Linked DNA regions of Homo sapiens: region 2 is linked to region 1. Evidence: fine-mapped expression QTL. Tissue or cell type: skeletal muscle. Region 1 holds a variant in brackets; the other region holds the start of a gene. All regions are shown on one strand. Distances are from middle to middle.

The links. PIP is the estimated chance that this variant, and not a neighbour inherited with it, causes the effect.
Region 2: it holds the start of ANKRD33B, and the variant in region 1 is fine-mapped to the expression of ANKRD33B in skeletal muscle (GTEx, PIP above 0.99).

The regions. Positions count from the first base shown.
Region 1 is chr5:10,587,485-10,597,520 of GRCh38, reverse strand. The region is part of intron 1 of ANKRD33B (ankyrin repeat domain 33B); the gene reads right to left. Among named protein-coding and RNA genes, the nearest start is that of ANKRD33B, 28 kb to the right of the region's middle. RefSeq lists enhancers at 1,823-1,882, 1,110-2,309, 8,330-8,624 and a silencer at 8,330-8,624. The variant T/C (reference allele first, on the strand shown) is at 4,915.
Region 2 is chr5:10,559,633-10,569,668 of GRCh38, reverse strand. It overlaps ANKRD33B (ankyrin repeat domain 33B), which reads right to left and starts at 5,599. Exons shown (of 4, transcript NM_001164440.2): 1 at 4,836-5,599. The coding sequence starts at 5,201. RefSeq lists enhancers at 2,426-2,475, 2,556-2,615, 3,143-3,644, 3,936-4,025, 4,046-4,095 and 3 more and silencers at 3,746-3,795, 4,766-4,815, 5,156-6,015.

The DNA.
Region 1 (10,036 bases):
TGTATTGGGTGCATATATATTTAGGATAGTTAGCTCTTCTTGTTGAATCGACTCCTTTACCATTATGTAATGCCCTTCTTTGTCTTTTTTTATCTTTGTTGGTTTAAAGCCTGTTTTGTCAGAAACTAGAATTGCACTCCCTGCTTTTTCCTGTTTTCCCCTTGCTTGGTAAATTTTCCTCCATCCCTTCATTTTCAGCCTACATGTGTCTTTGCATGTGAGATGAGTCTCTTGAAGAAAGCACACTGATGGGTCTTAACTCTTTACCCAGCTTGCTATTCTGTGTCTTTTAATTGGGACATTCAGCCAATTTACATTTAAGGATAATATTGCTATGTGTGAGTCTGATCCTGTCATCACGATGCTAGCTGGTTATTTGCAGAGTTGTTTATGTTGTTGCCTCATAGTGTCACTTGTCTGTGTACTTCAGTGTGTTGTGGCTGGGAGTGTTTTTTTCCTTTCCATATTTAGTGCTACCTTCAGGAGCTCTTGCAAGCCAGGCCTGATGGTGACAAATTCCCTCAGCATTTGCTTTTCTGAAAAGGATCTTATTTCTCCTTCACTTATGAATACTTAGATTGGCTGGATATGAAACTGAGTTGGAATTTTTTTTTCTTTAAGAATGTTGAATATTGTCCCCCAATCTCTTCTGGCTTGTGGGGTTTCTGCTGAGAGGTCCACTGTTAGTCTGACGGGATTCTCTTTGTGGGTAACCTGGCCTTTCTCTCTGGCTGCCCTTAACATTTTTTCTTTCATTTCAACCTTGGAGAATCTGATGATGATGTGTCTTGGGGTTGATGGTCTCATGGAGCATCTTACTGGGTTTCTCTGCATTTCCTGAATTTAAATGTTGGCCTGTCTTACTAGGTTGGGGAAGTTCTCACAAATGATATCCTGAATTATGTTTTCCAAATTGGTTCCATTCTCCCCATGTCTTTCAGGTACGCCAATCAGTTGTAGGTTCGATCTCTTTACATAATCTTATATACCATGGAATACTATGCAGCCATAAAAAGGAACAAGACCATGTCCTTTGCAGGAACATGGATGGTGCTGGAAGGCATTATCCTTGGCAAACTAATGCAGAAACAGAAAAACAAACACTGCATGTTCTCACTTATAAGTGGGAGCTGAACGATGAGAACACATGGACACACAGTTGGGGATCAATGCACACAGGGGCTTATCAGGGGGTGTGAGGCAGGAGAGCATCAGGAAGAATAGCTAAAGAATTCTGCACTTAATACCTAGCTGATGGGTTGATCTGTGCAGCAAACCACAATGGGCATGGCACACTGCCTGTGTAACAAACCTGCACATCCTGCACATGTGCCTCAGAACTTAAACTAAAAGTTGAGGGGGACAAAAAGAAAGCAAGCATAATTAATTTTAAAGGGTGCTGGTACATAATTAAGTCATTCTGTTGTTTTGGTTTGGCTTAGTTTTTTTCTGGCCTGGAACAATCTGTTCGGCTTATGCCAAAAACAAAGATCCCCCAGGCATAGGCGAAACATGATATTTTCAAACTTTCCTATGAGTCAGCGAAGGCAGTTTCACTTTTGTCCTGGGACACGTAATTCCAGGAAGCGCTTCCCCTGCCCTGGTACACTCAGCCTTCTCCCTCTCTGTTTTCAGGCCATCACACCTGCTCGTTCACAGAGGAGGCAAAAAAATGGATGATGGACAGAGATTTCCAGAGTCGTAATCATCCAGATGGTGGCCACTAGAAAAGACCAGAGAAAATGTCCAGGGTTGGAGTGCAGGGATGAGCCCAGAAGATGACATTGCAAGCAATGGCTGAACCTCTGAAGATTCATTTCGTCTCTTAAGGGTGTCCAAGTCTCTCCTCTGCCCATCAGGCCCCACTGGAGGATTCTGAACCCCTCTCCTTCAGTTACTCCTTCAGGTAACTGCCTGTAGTAGGTTGAAATGTATCGCCCAGAAAAGACATGTCCACATCCTAACCCCGGTCGCTGTGAATGAGACTCTGTTGGGAAATAGCATCTTTATAGATCATAATTAAGGATCCTAAGATGAGATCATCCTGGAGATTTGAGACACAGATGTGCAGAGGACAGATGAGGACAGAGAGAGATTGGAGCGATGCTGTCACAGACCGCAGAATTCCCAGCTCTGCCAGAGGGAGCGTGGCCCTGCTGTCACCTGGACTTCAGACATCTGCCCCCCAGAATTGTGAGAGAATCAATTTCTGATGTTTAAGCCACCTACTTTGTGGTCATTTGTTACGGCAGCCTTCAGAAAAAAATCCACTGCCAATCTAGCACCACAACCACCTATGTCCCCCAGGCCGCTCCTCCACCTGGCCTCCTCCCTCCTCTCCTGCTCAGGATGTAACCCTCCGGTCTGGCCCCAACACAGCACCTCCCTCTGGCGTGACTCCCCTCCACCCTCCACAGTCACAGGGCACACTCGCTAGAGATAGGGATCCATGTTTGGTGTTTCCTCTCTGCTTAACAACATCTGCTCCTGCAGCTCTTGAGTTACTTGCCATAGGAAAAGCCCAGGACTGGCCCTGCTGGGTCCCACCAATCACCCGGGGAGTGAAATCCCAACTACTCAGCCCAGCTCCTTCAACTCTATTTGCAGTTCACCCATCCTCTACCAAGACAATCACCACTCCTGCTGCCTGTACCTGGAAGGCACTTTCCTACCCGCTCAACGGCAGTCAACTCCCACTTTCCCCGAAGGACCCACACACAAGGTTTCCCAGTGCCGAATCCCACCCACATCGCAGGCAGCTCTGGGTTCCTGACATGTATCAGTGAATTCCTTTCCTGTTACCTCATTTTCTTTCAAGGAGTCGTTCTTCTTAGGTTCATGTCTTACCCCACCTAATGAATCAAATACCCTCTGAGGGCTTCAGTTTTGAGGTCGTGAACCCCATGTGGCTCCCAGGGGCCTTCCAGAACATGTGCCCTCGGCATGCATGGGGATGAGTGCATGCACGAAGGGAATAACAAGTAGAAAGAAGAATGTGTTTTTGGCTGGGCGTGGTGGTTCACACCTGTAATCCCAGCACTTTGGGAGGCCGAGGAGGGCAGATCAGCTGAGGTTGGGAGTTCAAAACCAGTCTCACCAACATGGAGAAACCCTGTCTCTACTAAAAATACAAAAATTAGCCGGGCGTGGTGGCGCATGCCTGTAATCCCAGCTCCTCAGGAGCCTGAGGCAGGAGAATCGCTTGAACCCGGCAAGCGGAGGTTGTGGTGGGCATTGCACTCCAGCCTGGGCAACAAGAGCAAGAAACCCTGTCTCAAAAAAAAAAAAAAAAAAAAAAAGAAGGATGTGTGTTTTTAAAATGCATATTTTCTGCAGTATTGGAGATCAATCAATCAATAAATACATGATCTCTTTAAACATCCCTCCCTGAATAAGAGTGAAAAAAAGCTTTAAATAAGGAATAGGTCTGTGACAATGAAGAGAATTCCTGCCCTTGGAGAGGAGAGAAAATCCCCGTGAGCTGACAGCTCCCACATGTGGTTACTCCTCGCTGTTGAGTCTCTAGGCTTTGCTCACTGCAGAGACTCTGGGACAGGTTCTGCCTTGCCACGGGACCAGAATTCGGCTCAGAGACAGCACAGGCCTTGGGTCTGAAAAAACTGTAGCTCAACAGCCAAGAGTAGTCTTGCAGCAGAAAAGGAGATGAACTATCCTTAAATGGCAGAGGGTTCATGAGGGGGTGAGGGTAAGTGAGTTGAGAGGGGTGGGGGTTGTGCTGGAATGGGGATCCAGGTGAGCCAGGGTCAGGGAAGTTGAGCCAGGGTGAGGGGTTGGGGAGTGAGTGGGTCATTGAGTCGGGGTCTGATGTTAGCCCCCCTGCCCGGGAGGAGAAGAGGTTGGAGAGAGGCTGGAGAGGTGAAGACTCAGAGCTCTGGAGGTGAGCTAGGGTTGGAGGAGTTGGGCTGGAGTCATGGTGAACAGGAGGTTGACCCAGGGTGGGGTTGGGATGAGCAGGGTAGGGTGTCGACTGAGACAGAGGTGAGGTACAGTACAAGGCAAGTTAAGGCACTAAAAAGTAAATGTCATACAACAAATGTGTAGATGACCCCTTTGAGAAGCTCCCCACTCAAATATCCAGTGTCTAAAGGGGAGGAAAGTATTCTGTCATTGCAGATGGGGTCGTACATTCATTGATGGTACAGGTTTTTGCTTTATTTTGTTTTTTCTTAAAAGAGTTAATAGCTAATGCTTTAAAAAAAAGTAAACAGAGCAAAATATATTATCTGCGATAATAATTTAAAATATGTTACTGCACAGAAAAAAAGAGAGTCCTATTATGCCAGTTGACTCAACTAATAATAGCTGTAGTGTTATAATATAAGGGTTAGTTGTTTTCTACTTTTAGAATCAAACTATAGATAAAGTTGAAATAATAAGCATAATTAAGATCCAAGAAAATGTTACTAGTCTCGTAAGTGGAAAGCTAGCGAAGACAATATGAGGGGTGGATACGGGGTGGTGGGAAAAGGTTAGGAAGGTCCTTACCTAACAGAGGAGAAGTCAGGAAATACCAGCTAGAATTGATGGAGAAGGAACTGGGGTTGAAATAACATATATAAGAAACTAAAAGAATACATATGAAAAAGGATGGGTGGATGGGTCTGATCAGAGGGGTGAAAAGGGCAAGTCAGCAAAAAACTCCACTACCATTGCACACAATCATCTCCACTGCCTCAAATGGACAAACCAAGAGTAGCTATGATGAGCAGGTTGCAACTGGCAGGGAGGGGACTGCCAGATGAAATGAAAGTGGGAACAGTGGCAAGAGACAGCTCTGAGGAGCAGACAGGTGGCCAAGAAGCCTGGGGTCTCTCACTGCAAGCTCATCTGCAGGATTCTATTTTCTTTTCTTTTTCTTCTTCTTTTTTTTTTTTTGACAGAGTCTCACTCTGT[T/C]GCCCAGGCTGGAGTGCAGTGGTGCAATCTCAGCTCAGCTCATTGCAACCTCCACCTCCCGGGTTCAAGCGATTCTCATGCTCAGCCTTCCAAGTAGCTGGGATTACAGCCGCCACCACGTCCACCTAATTTTTTTTTTTTTTTTTTTTTTTTTTTAGTAGAGATGGGGTTTCACCATGTTGGCCAGGCTAGTCTTAAACTCCTGACCTCAGGTGATCCGCCCGCCCTGGCCTCCCAAAGTGCTGGGATTACAGGCATGGGCGCCACCGCGCCCAGCCAGGATTCTATTTTCTATCACATATATGCTCTGTTTAACAAAAATAAGAGACAAGGAAAGTAGAATACTAACAAGAATAAAGTTTTCCCACAAATTGGTGAGAAGAAAATAAAGCAGATGGCCCAAAATAAGACCCTGTCTTTAAAGGGGAACATGTGTTAAAGGAGCAATCTGGGCAGTGATGGATGACTCAACCAACATTGCTGGAAAAGTTGATTACTGAGCAGTAAACACACACACACACACACACACACACCATAAAATCAAAAGATAATACAAAAGGACTAAAAAGTCAAGGGTATAATATATATACATACATACATACATACTTATATCCTAAAATAGTTTACTGATGGAGAAAAGAGATTCAAAAGCTAAAAATAATAAGATAACAATAAATATACAATGTAAGTTACTATATAAATACAATATTCCCTTATATCAAAATTATAAGTAAAATTGAAAGAAAAATGAAAAAGCAATCAAGATTAGTGACATTCACAGAATGATTTAAACAGAAATATTATATTGAATATCAGCATAAATACACCAAGAGTACAATTTTTCAAGGGTAAAGGAATGAGTAGAAAAACCAAAAAATAGCAAAAAGCCAGTAAATACATGTAAAATATACATAATCTTACTAGTAAGCAAAATAATGTAAATTAAAATATTAATGAGACACCATATGCTTAACAATAAATATTACATTTCAGATCTTCACAAAAGATGAATTCATTAATAGTTCTGGACAAAAGTCCCAGTCATACGGAAAAAAAATAAGGTTGGATCTTTATCTCACATCTCAGGCTGAAATGAATCATTAAATATTCAATCATAAAAACACTAAAAAGGCTCGGTGCGGGACAGCACTCTGGGAGGCCAAGGGTGGCAGATCAAGAGGTCAGGCGTTCGAGACTAGCCTGGCCAATATGGTGAAATCCTGTCTCTACCAAAAGTACAAAAAAAATTAGCCAGGCATGGTGGCACGCACCTGTTGTCCCAGCTACTCAGGAGGCTGAGGCAGGAGAATTGCTTGAAACTGGGAGGGGGAGGTTGCAGGGAGCCCACATGGTGCCACTGCACTCCAGCCTGGGCAACCGAATGAGACTCCATCTCAAAAAAAAAAAAAAACCACTAAAAAAAATGTAGATGACTATTTCTATAAACCTGGCTTAGAAACAGCATTTTGAAGCAATAGAGCAAGGCCGGAAACCATAAAGAAATAGATACATCTGACTGTATAAAAATTTAAACCTTCTCAGCAAAACAGTGTAAAGAAAGTAAAAAGGCAAATGACAGGGACTCTCACTTTCAGCTCTGAGAAACTGGCTTCAATCAGAGGCACTTTTCCCCTGAGAACAACTGAATACTTTTTTTCCCTAAATATCCATTTGGAGGCATCCAGTTTCCAAGACGACCAGGACTTGCAGGCCTGATTGTATTCCAGAAAGAAGGCGGAAATCCTGAGATAAGCTTCCATTCTCATGGCTTTCCCTAAGGGCATTTGCTGAGTAAGGCTGGGTGCTGAGAAACCAAGCAGAGAGCAGTAGTGAAGGGTAGGAGGAGCTAAGCAGAGTTGGTCATACTCTCGAGGGTTTGCAGGGAGGGGTATCCAATCTTTTGGCTTCCCTGGACCTCAATGGAAGAAGAATTGTCTTGGGCCACACATAAAATATACTAACACTAACACTGGCTGAAAACACACACACACACACACACGCGCGCGCGCGCGCGCGCATCTCAAAATATTTTAAGAAAGTCTACAAATTTGTGTTGGGCTGCATTCAAAGTCATCCTGGGCCTCATGTGGCCCGCAGGCCAGGGGTTGGATAAGCTTGGGTTAAGGAGACAAAAGTGGTATTCATGATCTGCCCAGGCCATATTTCTATAGGAAGCCAAAAGGGCTATATCCTACAAGACAGGCCAGAAAGAGGCCAGATCTTATAAAAACTACAACCTAGACTGCAATCTTCTGTCCCACTCTGTCTGCCAGAAGCAAACTAAATCCTCCCTGGACAAGATAACACAATCTAGTGCTACTTCAATTTTCATACACAATGTCTAGCATTCCAAAAATTACCAGATGTATCAGGAGACAGGGCCAAGAGAAAAACAGAAAATAGAAAACATCCCCAGAAGATCCAGAAATTAGAACGATCAAGCTTTAAAATAACTAATATGTAAAAGCAAATAATGACAAATGAGGAACTTTATTACAGAACTAGAATCAATAAAGAATCAAAAATTTTAGAAATACAGCATAATTGAAATTAAGAATGTAAAAAGCAATTAAATAGTAGATTAGGGTAAAGATATGATTAGTGAATCAAAAGATAAGTTTAATCAAAAATGCCCAGAAAATTAAAAAAAAAAAAGATTTAAAAGATAGGAAGAAAAGCATAACATACACAGGCAGCATGGTATAAAAGGTCTAATGTGTGTGAATTTGGTGTCACAGGATAGGAAGAAAAAGGGATTGGAACAAAAACAATATTTGACAAGATAATGGCAGAGAATTTTCCAAAACTGACAAGAGATATCAAGCCGCATATTCAGGAAACTCTATAAACCCCAAACAAGATTTTTTAAATGACAAATTAGAAAAAGAAGGCAGAATATAATAACTTTAGCATATGTAAAAAAATCCTTAGACCTCAAGAAGATAAGACAGACTAATCAAAAAATTGACAAAGGAATTGGTAAATTAGTTCAAAGAAAGAAATACAAAGGGCTAGTAAACATGTGATATGAAATATGTCTCAGCCTCACTAATCAACAAAAATGCACAAATAAAAGTGAGGTGTCATTTTTTGACAAGTTGGAAAAGAGTAAACAGAGTCAAATTAATTGGTGTTGGCAAAGTGTAGAAGGAAATGTACTCCCTTACCTTGCTAGAAAGCTTCAGTGTTGTAATGTTAAGTGAGATGGTGAGGCTTGGTGTAGTCAGGTGCAGCACAGTGAGGGACACTCAGACTGCAAAATGAATCAAGTTTACTACTCACAGGTCTGGAAGGAAGAGGACAGCACCCCTGGCAAGACCAAAGAGAAGAGGGGAGGAGCCATCCAGGACCTGCTCCTTCGACCAGCAGGTGGGGAACGAGAAACGGAGGGGCCTGTGGGTTGGATCCTTTATGGGGTTACCTAGGTGGGTTTCCCACAGCACGGTTGGATTAGTTCATTTGAAGGAAGCACGAGACTCAGCACAGGAACTCGGGGGTTACCTTATCAGGTTCCCGAGGCTTAAAGCAGAAGTAATGTGGTCAAGCAGCTCAGGGTATGGGGTCTTATCTACCCAGAACATGAAAACAGGAGCTGCGTGAAGACTGCCTCAAAATATGTTAGTCAAGCATGACAAGCTGGGAACAGGACAAGCAGATGGACGCTGAGGCAGTATTCATATGCATAAGTGATGACAATAAGCAAGTTCACTCTCTCTAGGGAGCCACTAGCTAATATGCACTCAGGCTGAGTTAGACTGTGCAGCAGAACAAGCAATCTCCACATCCCAATGGCATACGACAAACGTCTGCTTCCTGCTCATGCCACATGGTTGGCATGCAGCTTTTTTCCACATTGTTTTCCCTTGCAAGACTCAGGCTGATGGAGAAAACTCTACCTGGAAAATTGTGGGTTGCCCGGAAGAGGGGAAAAAGGATATGGCAAATCATACGCTGGATTTTAAAACTTCTGGCCAAAAGTTACACAAGTCACTTCTCACTGAATTGGCCAGAGCAAGTGACATGGCCAAGTGTGATGTTATGGGGAGGAAAGTCTAATCCTACCTTAGGGAAAGGCACATTTACTTTCAAAAATAAGAGAACTTACTCCACAGATCGAAACAAAATCTAACAATTTCCTAAGAGAGTCAGTAGGTTTCTGTACAAAGATGTGCAAATCTCTGTGTTGTTACTAATCTGCAAACCAGAAATAACCTCAATGTCCACTAGGAAGCCACAGGTTAAAGAAACGAACATATCCAGAAAGAGTACATTGTGGTCATTAAAAACGACATGTATTTGCTGGCAAAGAAAGGTGCCCTCATGAAGGTGCTAAGGAAAAAAGATTATAAGTACCGTATTATATTAAATGTCGCTAAAGTTATACCTCAAATACATAAGTATGCCTAGATCATGAATTCGCAGTCACTTTTTTATCATCTTTGGCATTTTACCTTTTTATGTTATCTGAATATTTTACAATAAGTATGCATGACTTAATATTTTGAAGATCAGCAAAGCCGTTTCAACATTTTTGATAATTAACATTCAGTGTCATGAGGATATAGTGAAACAGGCAATTTCATACCCTGTTGGTGGAAGGAAAACTGGGTACAATAATAACATACCAATAATATACCTTCTTGGAATTGATCTAAACAGAACTGCCCAGAGAGCCAATAAGAGACGTATTTAGACATTCATACATCAGAGCATTATTTATATCACAAAAAATTTCAGAAACAAAAAAGACCCAAAATTACTGAATAAACTATGATATATGCAGAAGTTGGATTTTTAAAATCAAGATTCTGAAGTATTTCTAATATAGAAATACCCCTACAAGTGAATAAACCAGGACTCAAAACTTTATTTATAGATAGATAACTTTACAGATAGCTAATCTGGCAGAGCATATATATTTCACAGCACAAGTCAGAAAAGAACACCGAAAAATTCACTATCATTAGCTCCAGGTACTGGGAATACAGGTGACTGGTTTTTGTTTTTTTCTTTGTACTTCTCTTTTTTTTTTCATTTTCCACACCAAAAAAAAAAAAATTGTATCAGAAGAATAATAAAATACCTAATAAATATTACTATTCAATGTTGTCCGAGTAAAAGA
Region 2 (10,036 bases), 28 kb after region 1:
CAGAATTTGGAGATGCAACTAAAACACTAGCATACATGCCTCTATTTATTTATTTATTTATTTATTTATTTTCAAACACGGGTCTTGTTCTGTCGCCCAGCCTGGGGCGCAGTGGTGCAATCTCAACTCACTGCAACCTCCACCTCCTGGGCTCAAGCGAGTCTCCTGCCTCAGCCTCCCCAGTAGCTGGGACTACAGGCGTCCACCACCATGCCTGCCTAATTTTGGTATTTTTTTAGAGATGGGCTTTCACCATGTTGCCCAGGCTGTTCTCAAACTCCTAGGCTCAAGTGATCTGCCTGCCTCGGCCTCCCAAAGTGCTGGGATTACAGGAAGGAGCCACCACGCCCAGCCTAACATACATTCCTAAAAAGCAAAGCTTGTGCTTGCAGGCCCTCCGCAAGCATACAGAGGCCTGAGGCCAGAATTCACTTTCTATGGTAACTAACAAGAACCAGAGAAGTCACTTTCTATGCTAGTCAGCCCGTTGCTGTGCACACGCAGGCCATGAGCACCGAGGCCTGGTAAAGACGGAGGGCTGTTGCAATAACTGGATTCTCATTTTTGGGGAAAAGTGATTCTGGAGCTTATAAATCTTTCGGAAGTATTAAAAAAATAAATAAATAAAAACTTTCTCACATACATTTCAAGATAAAGCCCTGATCATCGCTATAAATCTATGAAAATTAAGTTTTAATTTTAAGCACCTCAAGAGTAAAGGGAAACACCCACACTGGGTGTGATGTGGGCTTTGCTGACCTAACAAAACAAACCAATGGAGGGGCCTTTGGAAAACGTAACCAAGAGACCCTGGAAATTTAAACACGCAGAAGCAGGGCAGGCGCGGTGCCTCACACCGGTAATCCCAGAACTTTCAGAGGCCAAGCAAGAGGATCACTTGAGGTCAGGAGTTCAACACCAGCCTGGCCATCATGATGAAACCCTGTCTCTACTAAAAATACAAAAATTAGCCGGGCGTGGTGGCGCACGCCTGTAATCCCAGGTATGTGGGAAGCTGAGGCAGGAGATTCACTTGAACCCCGGAGGCGGAGGTTGCAGTGAGCAGAGATTGCGCCACTGCACTCCAGCCTGAGTGACAGAGCAAGACTCAGTCTCAAAAACAAACACGAACACGCAGAAGCAGAATCCCATCAGGACAGGAGTGCAGTATTTTAAATTGAGCATGTATTTGGGCCTAATTAAGTCCAAGAGCTGTCTGACATTTAAACTGCCCTTCTGCAACAATTAAAACAACACACTTTGTGTGTTTTCACTGTCATCTCAAGAGCCGCCAAGGCCATAAAGGTGAACTTCAGGTGATAGTAAGTGGAAGAGAAGAATTAAGAAAAAGAATTATGGCAGCTTGCACTGCCTCAAGTCAGAAGGAACAAAACAACCATAAATCCAGAAGACATTGGAAGCAAGCTTTGAATGTTATTGGGCAATTATCTGACAAATATTTACATGTTGCATATTAAATCATGCAATGCTTTTAGAGCAATAAATATTTTAGAAGGAAAATGGTGTGCTGAGCCACATCCAACATTCTACCAATCTCAGGAGGCAGGAGAGAATGCATTTTCTTAAACAAAACACATCTGACCCTTAGTTACCCAGACCAAATGGAATGCCTGTCAGCTCAGGCAAAGCTCCCTTCTTAAATGCCCAGAGATGAAGAGCTCAACAAGCATGTCCCAGAAAAGTTTAGACGCCTTTAGAGATCATTTCCTCCTAGAAAGCCGGCTGTGGGCTGTATCTGTGAGCTGTCATTCTGTCATTAATGCAATTACCCCTCCACTGCACCAAAGCTGTCCGGGCCTTCTTTAAGGTTTTCACTGCCACTAATCATGATAAGCTTGGAGACCAGGCTCCAACGAGGTTCCCACCTCAGTCTTTGCACACACTGTTCCCTCCGTCTAACTCCTCTTTCCCCTAGATGCCGTCTCTGCTCAAACGTCACCTGCTCTCTAAATGACCATCCTATTTATAATTTCAGCCCTAAATGTGTGAATGCCTACATTACCCTTGCTCAGCTCCAGGTTCTGTAGGCTTGGACAAGAGGAGACAGAAAAGCCTCCCAGGGAAGGTGCCCTTAAACCAGGAGCCTGCAGACAGAGAGGGAGTGACCCACACTGCCGTCGGGGAGACCGGACACCGTCATGTGAAAAGCAGTCCGTCTCCCAGTTTCCTAGGTCTCAGCTAGCCGCTCTTCCTCTGCAAGTTCTTCTCCTCACTAAAAGGCTAGGACTCTTCAAAGGCAGGGACTGCCAGATTCAGTTTTGAGTCTGCTAAAGTACCTAGCGGGAGCACAGTAGGTCTGCGGTAAACACTTTGGCAATGACTCACTCCATTTACCACAGAGCAGGGCATCAGGGCTTTGCCACACTTGATTCTTTCAGCTGTTTTTCAGGAAGATAGAGGCTGTTTGATCAACAGCCTTGAGAAGCTAATGAAAAGAATGGAGGCTCCTGCCTCGCTCCCCCCACTGGCCTCACAAAGCACAGAACACAAGCCCTGCTCCGTCTGATCCAAAGATGAAAGAGTCCAAGGGTCTCTAAGTTAGCAGGCTATGTCCGGGCCTACATCATTATTTTACGTGACACAGAGAAACAAAGTCTTCACTTCTGCTGTAATCAAAGGGGAAGAAAAGCAGCGAGAGAAAAAGCCTTGCCTGGCAGAAGACAAAAAACAAAACAAAACAAAATAAAACTGGAAGGTGCTCTCTTCCAAGCCAAGAGAAGGCAGACGAATGAGAAACACGATGGTAAACACAAGCCTGGGGCCAGGCCTTCCCAGAGCCTTGTGGGCACTAAGCCATTTTATGCTCACATCCTAAGAGGAGAGGCTGCCCTTATCCCTATTTTACAGACGAGGAAACTGAGGCAGAGAGCTGCTGGGAGGCTGGAGCTAGCCTCCCATACCACGGCCCTCCCCTGCCTCTCTGCTGTGTGGCCTGGAGACTCAGTCTGTTAGGCTCGAGCCCCTGGGGATGGTTTACGTTGCTGTCAGTTTTCTTCAATGCAGCTGTTTTCAAACATTTATGTTTTGCCCCTAAAGGAAACATTATATAAAGCTGAGCCCAGTGGTGCCCTAGAGTGGGGACTGGGCGAGCCAGGCCCCTCCTGTGCCCATTCCAGCCCACTGGAGACCACCAGGCTGCCCAGGACAGGGGGAGAGGCCCACCCCACCTGTTCCTTTATGAGCTTGGTGAGGCTTCCTTTAAAGCGGGCCCCCATACTGGCTTCCAGAAAGCAAGGTTTCTGATTACACACATCTGGGCCTGAAAACTCAGTTAAACCAAATGTAGAACTTGAGAAACAGGCCCTAGGACTTCGGGTGGAGCTCCAAGCCCTAATCACATGCCAGCCAGGGCATCTGTCGCCAGGGCTGGGGGAGGAGGCATTGCAAGAGGAATGGCAGCAGGAACTACAGGGCTCCAGGTGATGCTACCTACGGGGACGCCACCTCAGGTCTCACTGCCTAACATATGACAAGCACAGACCCTTCCTCCAAGTTCAAATGTTGTGTGATATGGTTTGGCTGTGTCCCCACCCAAATCTCATCTTGAATTCCCACGTGTTGTGGGAGGGACACGGTGGGAGGTAATTGAATCACGGGGGCAATGTAGTACAAGGGGAGAGTGACATTGGAGGGCTTCCCATCCACCTAAGCCCAGCCCAAACCACAGTCAGGGCAAACCACTTGCCCCACCCACTGCAGGATAAACCAAAGGCACAAGGTCACCCGGGTCCCCAAGTCAAAGCACATGTTTTCTGTCAGCTGCAGGCTCCTGAGCAAAAAGCATGTGCATTTGTGCTAGGCTGCATCTGCAGATACCACGGTCCTTGGACAATACAAAAATCAGGTGAGAACGCTGCCATTTGCCCACTGAGCACAGACTACGGGGAACTTGGCCACCGTGGTCACTCTGCAGTTTTCCCTTGAAGTGCTTTGCTTGGTGGAAGGTGTTCCACCAGCCAGTCCTTCTCAGGTCTTCTTAAGCCAACTTTTTTTCTTTTCCTTTCTTTTCTTTTCTTTTCTAAACATCTCGTTTTCTCTGAATCTGGTCATAACGAAAGGATAGCCTGTGCCTGCCTCCACGCCTCCTGCCCTACCCGGGTGGATGCCCGCGGCTCTGGGGCTCTCCCTATGCCCTGACTCTGGGGAGCCCCGGCTGGCATTGGCTCGCGAAGGTGACCTGCGGACAGACCAGTCAGAGATCACGTTGGCTGGTCGCGGCGCGGGCCACAAAGCTCAGCGGAGGTGGGGTAGGGGACCAAGCTGTCCCGGCGAGGGAAGAAACTGTTGCTTCCAAATCATTGCGGCTGGAGGAGCCGATCTGCGCCCCAGCGTGTTAGGACAAGGGCGGCGCGAGGGGCCCAGGGGCCAAATGGGGCGCTGGGCAGGAGGGGCTGTCTCCTGCAGGGGAGGAGGAATGGTCCCCTGCCAGGGACCTGGGGAAAGGTAATAGTCAGGAGGGGACCGGGCCGCAAGAAGCCCATCCTGGATTGCAGCACGGGCAGCCAGCGCGAATTCAGTCAGGAGGTCCACGGGGACCGGTAAACGAGAAGGGGATGCGGTGAGGACGCCGGACTGGCGTTTCTGCCGCGCTGACACCTCGACTGCTCCCTCCCCGCACCGCGTCCCCCAGCCTGAGACGGGGAAGCCACCCAGGGCACCGCGCTCCCAAACAGCGGGGAAAAGGCGCTCTGGGCGGCGGCTGAGTGACCGAGGGACCGGTCCGGAGCCAGGAGCTGGGAGGCGCGGGGATGTGGTGGGGAGGAGGGGAGTGGGGGCAGTGAGGGGGCTCAAATCCTGCGGGGACGCCCGCTTACCCTGCCGTTGCGGTCAGTCTCCTGCGCCTCCTCGACGCTCACCCCGCGCCGCACCAGCGTCCGCAGCAGCCCCACGTTGTTGGCGCAGGCGGCGCGCAGGAGGGTCGCCGTCTCCGGGACGCTTTCCGGGACGCCCTCCGGGACGCTCTCCGCGCTCTCGACGCCGTGCTCCTCCTCGTCCTCGAAAGGGTAGAAAGAGTCGTCCGAGGCGATGCTGCGGGTGTCTGGCAGACTCGAGAAGTCCTCAAACTCTTCGTAGTCAGCGGGGTCCTCCTCGACCTGCGCGCCCCGGGGTGGGGACGGCGGTGGTGGGGTCATGCAGCGCGCCCCGCCGCCCTCCGGCCCGGTCCCGGCCAGCAGCACCATGCCGGCGGCCGGGGCGCGGGCCGGGGGCCGGGGCGCGGGCAGGAAGAGCGGGACGCGGGGCGCGCGCCGAGGTCCCCGCTTCTCGCTTCTGCGTCCCCAGAGAAGCCGTGGCCCGCGCGCTCCAGCTCGGCGGAAACCGGCACCAGGCGGCTGCGCTCAAAGAAAAAAGTCTCCGGAGGCTGAGCGAGCCCCTGGGGTGGGCGGGACCGCGGGGGCTTTCCGAGGCGGGGCGGGGCGGGGCGCGGGGACACGCCTTCCCCCGGGGCCTTCCCCTCGCGCCCCTTCCTGGCCAGAGTTCAGAGCCAGGCAGGCGCTCTCTCGAGCGCGGGGACTGGGCACCTGGCAGCGTTGCCCCAGAGCTGGGGACAGCTGGCGCGGGAGAAGCAGAAGCAATCACTAAAGAAGCCGAACCCGAGTCGCGGGCGGCAAGCGGCCCCGCCCCTCCCTCCGCCGGCCCGCGGGATGGGGGCGGAGGTGGCGGCGGGGGGACGCCGGGGCGGAGCCGGCCTCCAGCTTCGGGAACCTCGGACCCCTGGAGCCGGCCTCCGCCGAGGGCGTCGGGCCCCCGGACCTGGGTGGGGCCGGTTTCTCCCGCCGCTTCAGAGGAGCAGAGCGGGTTTTCTCCCTTCGGGGGATCCCGGGCTTCGGGGCTGACTCCACCCGGCCGCGGCCGCTTGGAGGCCGGGGAATCCCCGGGGCGCTTGGCGGGCAGAGGAGCCGGGCGCGGGAGCGGAGCCGTCCACCTGGGACCTGTGCCCGGGGAGCGCTGCGGGCCGGGCCACTCTGAACTGGGGGCGGTCGGCTGCTGTGGGGGAGTCCCAGCCCGGAAGGGAGGACAATCCTCAGAGTCCCCCGTCTCGCGGAACCGGGGCCGGCCGTGGCTTGAGGGTTGGTCAGATCCTGGGATGGGGGGCGGGGTGTTCCGGAACCTCAGGGAGCATCTGAGTGGGAACGGACGACGAGGAACTCCCCGTCCCCATGCCTGGCCTGTGTCACGTGCGGGGATCTGCGGACTCACCCCCGGAGGCTGCGACTGGGCGCTGACCCCACGTCTGGCTGCCCAAAAGAGCAGGGCCGCGGGCGACAGCCGCAGTCCAGGCCCACAGCCCCTCTGGCCCGGCCTTGCCCTCTCCCCGTCAGTCCTGGCGCCGGGGATGGGCGGGGAGGAGGAGGGCGTGTGAGGATTTGCCACAGGGAGCCCTTGACTTCGGGGTAGGAGGCGTCGTGAGCCAATCTTGGGGGAAGGTCTCTGCGCAAAGGCGCGGAGGTGCGCTCGCGCCCGTCGCAGGTCAAAGACTGCGGAGGCCACCAGCCCTGTGTCCCCCTAGCCTCCTTCCTTCCTTTTTTTCCCCCGATCTTGACAGCGTGTCCACCAGCTGCCAGCCGGTGGGAGGCCCTCGCGGCCCCAAGGTGAACACAGCTAGGCTGGCGCAGCCGCTGGGGACCAGGCTTGAGGCCCACGTGCCGCTGGGCAAGCTGAGGGGCACGAGGGCACCGAATCCGAAACAGCCGTGGGAGGTGTAGGATGAGGACACGTTTAAACTGCGAAGCCGCTCGAGCCCTCGTGTCACACCGCACTGGCCCGACCCGCTGTCCTGGTCGCCTGGTCTTCCAGTGTCTCCAGCAGGAGCCAAAGGGCCTGCTGGCGGCCCCCGACCCGGCATCTGCAGGGCCCCGGAGGGTGGGGCGCGCGGGAGCACCGATTTCTGGTGAAGACGCCCTCGCACCTGGGCGGCTCTGAGCGAGCAGCGAACTGAGACTCGCTGGCCTCCTTCTCTACTCCGGGGATTCTTTCTGCAACCAAAAATAGCCCCCAGATTACAGTAAACTCTACCTTTTTGTGTAACTGACCACAGTTTGCATCAATTCCCACTGGGAATTTCCCCTTTCAAGGTTGAGGGTTGTTTCCAAAGGCCTGGGGTAGTTACAATTTCAAGTGCCCCCTGAGGGCTGAGTTGGGTTTGCTGGACCCACTGTCCTCCCAGGGAGAGCACTGCGTCACTTTACAGCAAGAGTCCCGGCTGCGGGTCACCAAGGCCCAGGTGGACAGGGCCAGGCCCTGAGAGGGGAGCACCACGCAGCCTTTTCTGGCCTCCCGTAGGCGATTGGTGCTCATTGACCGCGTCACTCAGCAAGGGAATTGAGGTTCTATCTTCAGAGTTTACCACTTCCTTTTCTTCCTTAGAAATTTGAGTCCAAATAGCATTTGAATGTGTTTCCCCTTAAATATAAACTAAAATGTCATCGTCTGCTTCAAAGAAGAACTATCGTTTATAAGTAAGTGGTCCGATTCAGGATGCAAGCTGATCATTTTCCTGTCTTTTAAAAATAAACCGCTAAGAAGAAACAATAAATAAAAAATAAAATATGCTTCTTTTACAACAAAGACAGTAGAGTCTGGACATTTCTGGAAGATGGGCTAAAAGAAACACAAAATCGACCGGGCGCGGTGGCTCACGCCTGTAATCCCAGCATTTTGGGAGTCCGAGGCGGGCGGATCACGAGGTCAGGAGATCGAGACCATCCTGGCTAACATGGTGAAACCCTGTCTCTACCAAAAATACAAAAACAAAATTAGCTGGGCGCAGTGGCGGGCGCCTGTAGCCCCAGCTACTGGGGAGGCTGAGGCTGGAGAATGGCGTGAACCCGGGAGGCGGAGCTTGCAGTGAGCAGAGATTGTGCCACTGCACTCCAGCCTGGGCGACAGAGCGAGACCCCGTCTCAAAAACAAAACAAAACAAAACACCAAAAAAAAAAAAAAAGACACAAAATCAGGCATAGGCATTTTTAGTAAAGCCAACATTTATTATATGTACAAAATCTGCATAGGTAGGAGAAAGTAGCTTATCAAAACTGCCGACTCAGGATAACTTAAATTAATATTCTGAGGCCAGGTGTGGTGGCTCACACCTGTAATTTCAAAACTTTGGGAGGTTGAGTCTAGCGGATCCCTTGAGCCCCAGGAGTTCAAGCCCAACCTGGGCAACGTGGTGAAACCCCATCTCTGCAAAACATACAAAATATAGCCTAGTGTGGTGGCGTGTGCCTGCAGTCCCAGCTACTTGAGGGGGAAGTCGAGGCTGCAGTGAGCCCTGATGGTGCCACTGCATTCCAGCCTGGGCAACAGAGTGAGACCCTGTCTCAAAACAAAAAGAGAAGTACTGAGAAATTATATTTTATCCGACTGTCAAGTTTCAATGAATTATTTTGTTATGATTTTGAAAGATATACATAGCAATTACACAATTTGTTCATTTAGTTGAATAATTTGTCTTTGGACCATTTTTTAAAAATTCAGCACTAGCTCAGTTATATGTCTGTAACATGCCTTTCAAAATTACAAGCAGTATGTTTATCTTGAAGAGAGAGAAAACTGCATGCACCTATAGGGCCTGCCCCACCTTGGTTTGGAAGGAGGGAGGCAGGGGGAACCTAGTGGTGGAGGAGCACACAAGTGCACCACAGTGTTCATAAAATAACTAGCTCCAGCACTTTGGGAGGCCAAGGTGGGCAGATCACTTGAGGTCAGGAGTTCGAGACCAATCTGGCCAACATGGTGAAACCCCATCTCTACTAAAAATACAAAAATTAGCCAGATATGGTGCTGCATGCCTATATTCCCCACTGCTCGGGAGGCTAAGGCAGGAGAATTGCTTGAACCTGGGAGGCGGAGGTTGCAGTGAGCTGAGATTGTGCCACTGTACTCCAGCCTGGATGACAGAGTGAGACGCCATCCCTCACCAAAGAAGAAAATAAAATAACCAGTTCCCATCTCCCAAGGCTAAATGAAGAACTGAAGGAGAGAGTGATTTAAAACCTTCTCACATTGTCTGGAATTTAGCAACAGTGTTAACTTTCATTAGTATGAAAATTAAAGTATCCATTCGCCTTGATATAAATTGTTCTGTAGGACCTGCTTCTCCAGATTCATTGCCTTATTTGCCGAGAGAGCTAGCCCAGGTGAAGTGAATGAGAAATGTGTATAGAAGGCAGTGCAGCTTGGGGTGAAGACCAGATAGTGATATCAGACAGGCTGGCTTCCAATTATGGCTTTACCACTGCTAAGTTACAATGATAATAGTTCTAGATTTTGAATGTCTGTTACTGTGGGGGTACCAATCTCCTATTCTTGATGTTTAGGGTATTTCCAACATTTTCCTTAGTGGACACAAATGCACCCTTGTCCAGGTATTTCCTCAGAAAAACATCCCACCTCAAGTGGCTTGAGCTTTTTAAACCCCAGTATTATGTGTAAAAATTGTTCTCAGTGAGAGAGACTGGGAGAGCCAGACCTCAAGCTCAGATGGGAAGACTCAGGGCTGTAAAGATCCTACTTGTCTTCATACTGTTCTAGAAATGACATGACCACATTCCTGTGTGAATGCTTGGAGGGGAACATGACAGCACTAATCCAAAGTAGATCTCATGAGATAACAACCGTCTGATAATTTCTTTTGCTGCTGTTGTTTTCATTGTCGTTGACGAAAGCTTTCCAGAGTTAGTCTCTGTTACTAGGAACTAAAACTCAGTTCAGCAAAACAGCATATTAAGAAAAAAACTCGACCGGGCGCGGTGGTTCATGCCTGTAATCCCAGCACAGAAAGAGAGAGAGAGAGAGAGAAAAGAAAGAAAAGAAAGAAAGAGCAAGCTAAATGGGGAAAAAACATTAATTGCAGAAAAAACATTAATTGTGCTGCTTGTGGCAAGTGGTTAGGATGATAGCCAAAACGTAGAGAGAATTCACAAACCAAGAAGGAAAAGCTGAGCATATTTATTAATTTGTTTAGCCCCTGTTGTTCCATAGTGAGGGAAATACAGCTCATTACGATGAAAAA